Regions from separate parts of the Homo sapiens genome. Here region 2 is linked to region 1. Evidence: fine-mapped QTL for protein levels in blood plasma. Region 1 holds a variant in brackets. A gene starts in the other region. All regions are shown on their reverse strands.

Region 1 (4,396 bases):
CAGACTTTACACGAGCTGAGGTCATGTTTCTCTCTGTGTATGGCACAGCCATTGTGCCAGGGGCTGGATCTGACATGGCTTGGCCATGTTTTTTTGCTACCACAAAACAGGTTGAAAAAGAGCCTTTGACCTTTGTGGAGAATTCCCTACTCTGTAATCCAGCCACAAACCATATGGTGCACCCATAAAGGCCTGGCCTCAACTTGTGGCTACCCTCAAGTTCAGTAGGACCTTCAAGCAGAAGGAGCCACAGTGTCTGTTTTGTGCTTATTTTTCACCTTCTGCTGCATTAGACCTTACTGACCACTGCCTTCATAAACTTTTCTCCTACCTTAATTTCCGTGACTCCACTCTCCACTTTCTATCTCCTTGCTCTATTCCCCCATCTACTTTCTGTTTTTATATTTTCCATTCACCCAAACGTTAGCTCAAAGGTCCCAGCATTCCTTTTTTTGGCCTTTGTTTTTGTTTTTTAATCATAAAACAATCTCTTCGATGTCTAGAGCTTCAACTGACATCTGAATCTGATTGCTTTCAAATCTACGTCCAGAGTCTGGCCCTTTCCCTTATGCTACACTTCTAGCTGAGATAGAGCAGCCATGTGAAGATATTCCATGGGCACCTCAAAGGTTTTCACTTTCCTCCATTGCTTTGTATTCCTGATTAGAGATGCTAGTAACCCCATCCTCAAAATCTTCCAGCCCTCCCTGCTTTTCCTCAAGTCCTGCATTCAACCAGTCACCAAATTCTGCGTTTTCTATCATTTTGTCATTTTTTTTTAATTTTTTTAATTTACATGTAAATATAATCATTTTACTTCCTTCCTAGAACCCTATCATCTTCAGGACAAAGTCCATGTATCTTATGATTCCTATTGAACTTCCCAAAATGTCCAGAATGCCCACACATTATCTCTCTCCCTCCCTTTGCACATGCTGTTCCTTATTCTGGAATTTATCCTTCTCCCTTGCAACACTGTCTTCTTGGGAAATTCCCAGTCATTCATCAAGACTCATCCCAAACATAATTTCCATTTTGAATTTTGATCTTACCTTCCAGAAACGCTAATACTGTCCAGTTTGTCATTTCTCTATGCTCCCACAGCACCAGGTATACACACTTCTATGTCAGCAGTCAGCATATGGATTTATAGTGGGTTTGTTCACTTTTCAATCTCCCATATGAAGCCATAAGCTCTTTGAAGACTAAGACACTGTTTTTCAATGGTCCACTTAAGTCTCCAGGGTCCACTGCTGCAACTAGATCAGCTGTTTTAGCTATTCTGTCTGGTCGTCCAGACCTTGAGTAGTGCTGCTATGAATAAACCCATAATGCTCTGTGCCTGTGTCCAAGTAATGTCACAGCCAAATGGGGGAAGTGAAGAGAAATGCTGTTATCATGTGGTATTCAAGCACTAACTCCTAAAAGGGATGGCTTATTTCTCAGGATAGTAGACACTCATGCTGACTGTGGTAAGACAAAACATACGGAGAAAATAACGTGTTGCTGGAAACCAATGTGATCTAATAATGAAATTTTCCAAGGCATAAATGATTGCTTTTCCAATTTGCCTTTATCCATAACTAGAGTTGTGGGGAAAACATAATTCATGAAGGTGTATTGTCCAAAGAGGTTAAAAAAAGGTTTGTCATATGCCAATGAGGGATTGACATTTGTTTGAATCTGGTGACCTCCAAGAGGAAGCTGCTGTGGGACTGGGCTTTCGATAAATTCTAATTTGGTATCCTAATGGGTAGTTATCACCATTTTCAAAGTGTTTGTTCTTATTGACACGTATTTGCCTTCTTGTTTATACTCTCCTATTTGTATTAGCCTTTTTGCCATTTATCTGTCTGGGTTCTGAGTTTCAATATTCAACCAATTCTACAATAAGCATTTGGTCATGTTTTGACATCTCTGAAATTGGAGTGTGTTAGTACAATTGTTGACATCTTATTGTCATGGGTCAGCCAGGACCATTTGTGACTTTGCCGCTATTGTCTGTGCAAACTTGGTCATTAATTATTGGTGGCCTGACAGACTAACTGTAACCCCTTGCCCCATAGGAGAACTTTTTGTATCCCCCACTGGTGTGAGGGCAGGACAGGGTTTTCTCCACTCTGTATCTTCACTAGAGTGATCTGGATTCTCTATTTCTTTCATCTGTTGTCAGGAAGCTTCTTTGCCAGGGCTACAATGCCTAGTAGTCCAGAAGAGATGTGAGCTGAGGAAAACATGAGGTCCCATCCTGCTCACCCTTATCTCAGTGTAAAGATAGATGTCTTTCCATGCAAAAGGAAGAACAGTCAACCTCAGAGTTCCTCCTCTGTACCACAGAGATTAGGAGCAAACACTTCTGCATTTCACTAGGGTAATGTGTCAGCCTCTCCACATCCTAGCATTACTAGATGTGTTTGGAAGAAAAGAGTGCTAACTCAT[G/T]GTGGCCTCCCAAAAGCCACGTGGTAGCGTCTGTTCTACACTGCCTGCTTCTGCTCTTTACTCTCAGCTCTACCCTGGTATATCTGTCAGTGTTCGTTCAAGAAAATAGACACATGCCTGATATTCAAATGGAGAGGACTTAATAAAAGCAATTGGTTACACAGATGTTGAAGATTAATGGCAAGAAGGAAACCCAGAAGCAATAGTAGCCACAGGAAGCAGCTACAATTCCTAGGTTTGAGGGAACCAAAAGGAAAATTTATGGGCACCAAAACCTAGGAGTCAAGAGGAAGGGCCCCATGTTGCCAGTGCTCAGGGATGGAGGTGCCACACACTGATAATTAGGTCTCTGAGGGGGTCCAGACACAGGGCTGATGATGGTACCTCTAAGGGATGGGTCTGAAAGGGTTTTTAAAAGCTGGAGACTGGAGCCATAGCTGCCCTCTGCTGCTAAAGAGATGTGCCAGGAGCTGCAAACAGGAAGATGTTGTCCAAGGACTCTTTCTCTCATCCTCTCATGTTGCAGTCTCCTGCCAATGCTGCTCAAAGGCAGAATTTAATGGGAATCTATCCAGCAGAGGAATCTGGGAAATGTAGCTTGCAGACTTCTAGTAGAATATAGAGAAAATGTGGGCTTGGGACTCAGAGACAACAAAGAAATAAATGTCACAATAGGCCACTGAGTTCTTTGCAGCTGGTTACTGCCTGGAACTGGAGATTCATTTCCTCCCAGATGTGATGCGTTCACCAGGGGATACACTTCAGAAGTGGGGTGATCTGAGGAAGACCACGTTTCCCCATGTTGCCCCCTCCTGATCATCTTCCATAGCACCATGAGCACAAAATAACATGTACACAACATACTCCACTGATGGGAATTAAAACTACAAGGAAAAGAACTTAAGTTAGGGAGCATAATGTGGCTATTCTTAGTCTAAAATAGGGGTTCTCAACCTTGGTTCTACTGACATTTAGAGGTAGATAATCCTTTGCTGTAAGGGGCTGTCCTAGGCATTGTAATATGCTTAGCAGCATCCCTGGCCTCTACCCACTAGATGCCAGCAGCACCCTGCCCTAAGTTGTAACAATAAAAAATGTCCCCCAACATTGCCAAATAGTTGGAAAGAGGCAAAATCACCCCCAGTTGGTCTAAGAGTAAAGCACAAAAATTTAAACCTTAAGCATTTCCCTGTGGGTATTTTCCAATTCCTAGATTTACTTCTCTTCAAAAAGAGCCCTTCTAATGTCTTTCTATTACAACTATATCCCTCTTTCTGGAACATTCTATATCTTTCCCACAGGACAATTGGTTATATCATGGAGAGATCCCTTCTCATAAGAAAGAGGGGTGGATATTATAACTCACAACTTACATTTCCCAAAGTGTAAATTATGTGTTCTAAAATAGCCTCAAGAACCAGGGTGCATTATGGCACTCAATGCCTGGCCCATCTCAAGGTCTCTCCATTAACGTGTGGTGGCAACGCTGTAATATTCAGAAGCTAACTGCCTTCACCTCCCACACATCCCATGCAACATGAAACTATACTTCTCAGAAACCATGCAGTTGACACTCATATTGAAGGAGGAAATTTTTCATATGTGCGATATAATCTTCCTCTTGCTGCAGCAGAAATAATGTTTCACTTTATGGTATGGTGCATCATCAGCTTCTCTTTATTCATTCTCTGACAACCAGACCATGCCTACACATCTGTTGATAGATAAGAGTCTCTTCAAGCAACAAAGCCATATAGCCCTCTATAGCTACACACAAACACTTTGAAATGACATCTTGCTTTACAATGTAATCTTATTTTTAGGTAAGGTAGCCACTACAACCCTAAGTGGAAAGCAACAAGAATAAAGATATATTTTCATCTTATTCAGGTTTGGAAATTGGAGTGGGAGGATGGAAGACTGTTCTTTTAATTATACTCTCACTGGATTAATGATC
Region 2 (4,396 bases), not on the chromosome of region 1:
CAGATCACGAGGTCAGGAGATTGAGACCATCCTGACAGACATGGTGAAATCCCATCTCTACTAAAAATACAAAACAATTAGCCGGGGGTGATGGCAGGCCCCTGTAGTCCCAGCTACTCGGGAGGCTGAGGCAGGAGAATGGCGTGAATCCAGGAGGCAGAGCTTGCAGTGAGCCGAGATGGTGCCACTGCACTCCAGCCTGGGCGACAGAGCGAGACTCCGTCTCAAAAAAAAAAAAAAAGAAAGAAATTGGTATGACTGTTGACTCACAACAGGAGTCAGGGGCATGGGGTGGGGTGTAAGATTAATGTCATGACAAATGTGGAAAAGAAACTTCTGTTTTTCCAACTCCACGTCTGCTACCATATTATTACACTCTTCTGGTAGTGTGGTGTTTATGTGTGAATTTTTTTTCATATGTATACAGTAATTGTAGGATATGAACCTGATTCTAGTTGCAAAACTCACTATGAGCTTAGCTTTTAAGTTGCTTAAGAATAGGTAGATCTATGCAAATAATGATAATTATTATTATTATTTTAAGAGAGGGTCTCACTTTGTCACCCAGGCTGGAGTGCAGTGGTGTGATTAAGGGTCACTGCAACCTCCACCTCCCAGGCTCAAATAAACCTCCCACCTCAGCCTCCCCAGTAGCTGGAACCACAGGCACGGGCCACCACGCCTGGCTAATTTTTTGTATTTTTTGTAGAGATGGGGTTTCATCATGTTGCCCAGGCTGTTCTTGAATTCCTCGGCTCAAGCAATCCTCCCACCTTGGCCTCCCAAAATGCTGGCATCACAGGCATGATGGCATCACTGGCATCACATACCATGCCTGGCCTGATTTATGCAAATTAGATATGCATTTCAAAATAATCTATTTTTATTTGTTGCCTTATTGGTGGTACAATCTCAAGTGGAAAAATCTAAGGGTTTTGGTGTTATTTGCTTACTCAACCAATATTTATTAGACTCTTACTAAGCACCAACATGATCACATGCCTGAGCTATGGCTAGCATAGCGTGTGAGACAAACTTAATCTCTGTTTTGGTGGAGCATATAATCTAGTAGATGAAGCCAATGTTGAGCAACATCACAATACTAACAAATTGAGGATGCTACGAGAGTGTCTAACAAATTGAGGATGCTACGAGAGTGTCTAACAAATTGAGGATGCTATGAGAGTGTGTCATGGAGAGCTGCCTGGAGATTGAGAGAAAGCTTCCTTGAGGGAAGTTACATTTCAGCTGAAACACACTGCCATCTGCTCGAGGTTTTGTAACTGCATTCACATCCCGATTCTGACACTTCACATCCCGATTCTGACACTTCACCCAGTTACTGTCTCAGAGCTTGGGTCCGCATGTGTAAAACAAGGACAGTATGCACTTGGCAGGGTTGTGAGAAGGGAAGAGAACACAAGTAAAGCACCTGTATCAGGCATACAGTAGGCACTAAGCGTGCGATGCTTGCTATGATTATACATCAGTGTAAGCATCAAGGAAAAGCTGAAGAAAAGTCTGACCAACAGCGAAAGATAAATGCGCAGAGGAGAAATTTGGCAAAGGCTCCAAATTCAGGGGCAGTCCGTACTCTACACTTTGTATGGGGGCTTCAGGTCCTGAGTTCCAGACATTGGAGCAACTAACCCTTTAAGATTGCTAAATATTGTCTTAATGAGAAGTTGATAAAGAATTTTGGGTGGTTGATCTCTTTCCAGCTGCAGTTTAGCGTATGCTGAGGCCAGATTTTTTCAAGCAAAAGTAAAATACCTGAGAAACTGCCTGGCCAGAGGACAATCAGATTTTGGCTGGCTCAAGTGACAAGCAAGTGTTTATAAGCTAGATGGGAGAGGAAGGGATGAATACTCCATTGGAGGTTTTACTCGAGGGTCAGAGGGATACCCGGCGCCATCAGAATGGGATCTGGGAGTCGGAAACGCTGGGTTCCCACGAGAGCGCGCAGAACACGTGCGTCAGGAAGCCTGGTCCGGGATGCCCAGCGCTGCTCCCCGGGCGCTCCTCCCCGGGCGCTCCTCCCCAGGCCTCCCGGGCGCTTGGATCCCGGCCATCTCCGCACCCTTCAAGTGGGTGTGGGTGATTTCGTAAGTGAACGTGACCGCCACCGAGGGGAAAGCGAGCAAGGAAGTAGGAGAGAGCCGGGCAGGCGGGGCGGGGTTGGATTGGGAGCAGTGGGAGGGATGCAGAAGAGGAGTGGGAGGGATGGAGGGCGCAGTGGGAGGGGTGAGGAGGCGTAACGGGGCGGAGGAAAGGAGAAAAGGGCGCTGGGGCTCGGCGGGAGGAAGTGCTAGAGCTCTCGACTCTCCGCTGCGCGGCAGCTGGCGGGGGGAGCAGCCAGGTGAGCCCAAGATGCTGCTGCGCTCGAAGCCTGCGCTGCCGCCGCCGCTGATGCTGCTGCTCCTGGGGCCGCTGGGTCCCCTCTCCCCTGGCGCCCTGCCCCGACCTGCGCAAGCACAGGACGTCGTGGACCTGGACTTCTTCACCCAGGAGCCGCTGCACCTGGTGAGCCCCTCGTTCCTGTCCGTCACCATTGACGCCAACCTGGCCACGGACCCGCGGTTCCTCATCCTCCTGGGGTAAGCGCCAGCCTCCTGGTCCTGTCCCCTTTCCTGTCCTCCTGACACCTATGTCTGCCCCGCCAGCCGCTCTCCTTCTTTTGCGCGGAAACAACTTCACACCGGAACCTCCCCGCCTGTCTCTCCCCACCCCACTTCCCGCCTCTCATTCTCCCTCTCCCTCCCTTACTCTCAGACCCCAAACTGCTTTTTGGGGGGTATCATTTAAAAAATAGATTTAGGGGTTACAAGTGCAGTTCTGTTCCATGGGTATATTGCATTGTGGTGGCATCTGGGCTCTTAGTGTAACTGTCACCCGAATGTTGTACATTGTATCTAATAGGTAATTTCTCATCCCTCATCCCTCTCCCACCCTCCCACCTTTTGGAGTCTCCAGTGTCTACTATTCCACTAAGTCCATGTGTACACATTGTTTAGCGCCCACTCTAAATGAGCCTTTTTGTTTCATTCATTCTGTAAGTGTTGAATAGGCACCACCTAAGGTCAGGTATAAGTGGAAATTTGAAAAAGAAACTGCCCACTTGCCCCAGTACTTCCCTAGCCAAGAGGAGGGAAACCAGGCAGGTGCACCTGAAGGCCTGTGAGTGCTTGATTTGCTGTGCAGTGTAGGACAAGTAAGATTGTGCATAGCCTTCTGTATTTAAGACTGTGTTAGGAAGATTTCTCTTTCTTTTCTTTTCTTTTTCTTTTTTCTTTTCTTTTTTTTTTTTTAGGCAGATGAAAAGGGCGTCACAGAACAGGAATAAAAATCTAAATATTCAATAAATGAGACCTAGGAGACTACTGCAGTGACTTACAAAGTCCTAATAAAAAGATGTCTCTCCAAAATGGGGCTGCAAAATGTGGTGCTGCCTTATCAGCTCTAAGTTTTTTCCTTACCTGAGAAAGAAGGAACCTGATGCAGGTTCAGGGCTCCTGCCCCATGAATGCAGGCTGACTCCAAGATGGGGAGCTACAGGGACAATCCCAGGTCTTCTAGGCCTCTTATTTAGGCCCTGGGAGCCTCCAGAGATGGCCACATCTTGACCAGCCCAGATAGAGGGAAAGATCACCATTATCTCACCTCTGTGTCAAATACCTAGATGCTGTCCTCCCTGAGCCCACACTATAGTTGCCAGCGCTAATTTAATGGGTAGTGTACTGGTTAAGAGATGGACAGACCATCCTGGCTTGACTCTCAGCTCTGGCAAAGATGAGTGACTTGGTTTTTCCATATCTCTTGGCCACACCAACCTTGATTTCTTCAGCTGTAGAATGGAATTTCTCAAGCTTGCCTCAAGGATTATTGCCCGAGGATTTGATGATATGGTAAGAGCTTCTCAGTGTTTGACCCATAGTAAGTGTTTGACGTTTCAAACGAATTGTTTCTTTCTAGGACATGGTGAGCATTTGGTAGCCATTCACCGGTTTTCTGTTTCTTTGGATCATAGTTAACCTCTCCTTTTCCTTCTGGCACTACAATTTTCTGGTGGGGAAGAATCCTTACTTTCTGCCCTTCCCCTTAAGGATAGGAAGCTGATACTAGGCAGCAACTAGTTGGGGGATAGGAAGATTGTTCCAGAGAAATGCTGAACCATAGGGCTCCAGATCACAGGACCCCAGTCTTAGCTTGCTGGGGTGTGGGGTGGGGGGGGGCGGTTACTGAACATGGGTATGAAGTAGATGTCCATTTACTGAAATGTGAGGACCTGAGGCCTCTTCTATTGCTGTAGCCAGCATATTCCCCAACCTCTCCCCAAGAAAGGACAGATGGGGGTTCCCCCCTGGAGTAACAGGTCCAAAAGAAAAAACATACAGTG

Direction of the effects. Alleles are on the strand shown, and positions count from the first base shown. The strength of an association depends on the size of the effect and on how common the allele is.
With allele T in place of G in region 1, the plasma level of the protein whose gene starts at base 2,305 in region 2 is lower (weak association).

Evidence for each region. A credible set is the group of variants that fine-mapping cannot tell apart. PIP is the posterior inclusion probability: the model's chance that the variant is causal. The UK Biobank Pharma Proteomics Project read protein levels with antibody pairs (Olink). The fine-mapping took linkage between variants from a reference panel, not from the people measured, so its PIPs are less certain.
Region 2: HPSE starts here. The variant in region 1 is the best candidate, but not a certain one, in a credible set for the plasma level of the HPSE protein (UK Biobank, PIP 0.60).

The regions. Positions count from the first base shown.
Region 1 is chr3:18,207,061-18,211,456 of GRCh38, reverse strand. All of the region lies in intron 4 of BALR6 (B-cell acute lymphoblastic leukemia associated long RNA 6), which reads right to left. Among named protein-coding and RNA genes, the nearest start is that of SATB1, 220 kb to the left of the region's middle. The variant G/T (reference allele first, on the strand shown) is at 2,440.
Region 2 is chr4:83,332,757-83,337,152 of GRCh38, reverse strand. HPSE (heparanase) reads left to right here and starts at 2,305. Exons shown (of 12, transcript NM_001098540.3): 1 at 2,305-2,597. The coding sequence starts at 2,371.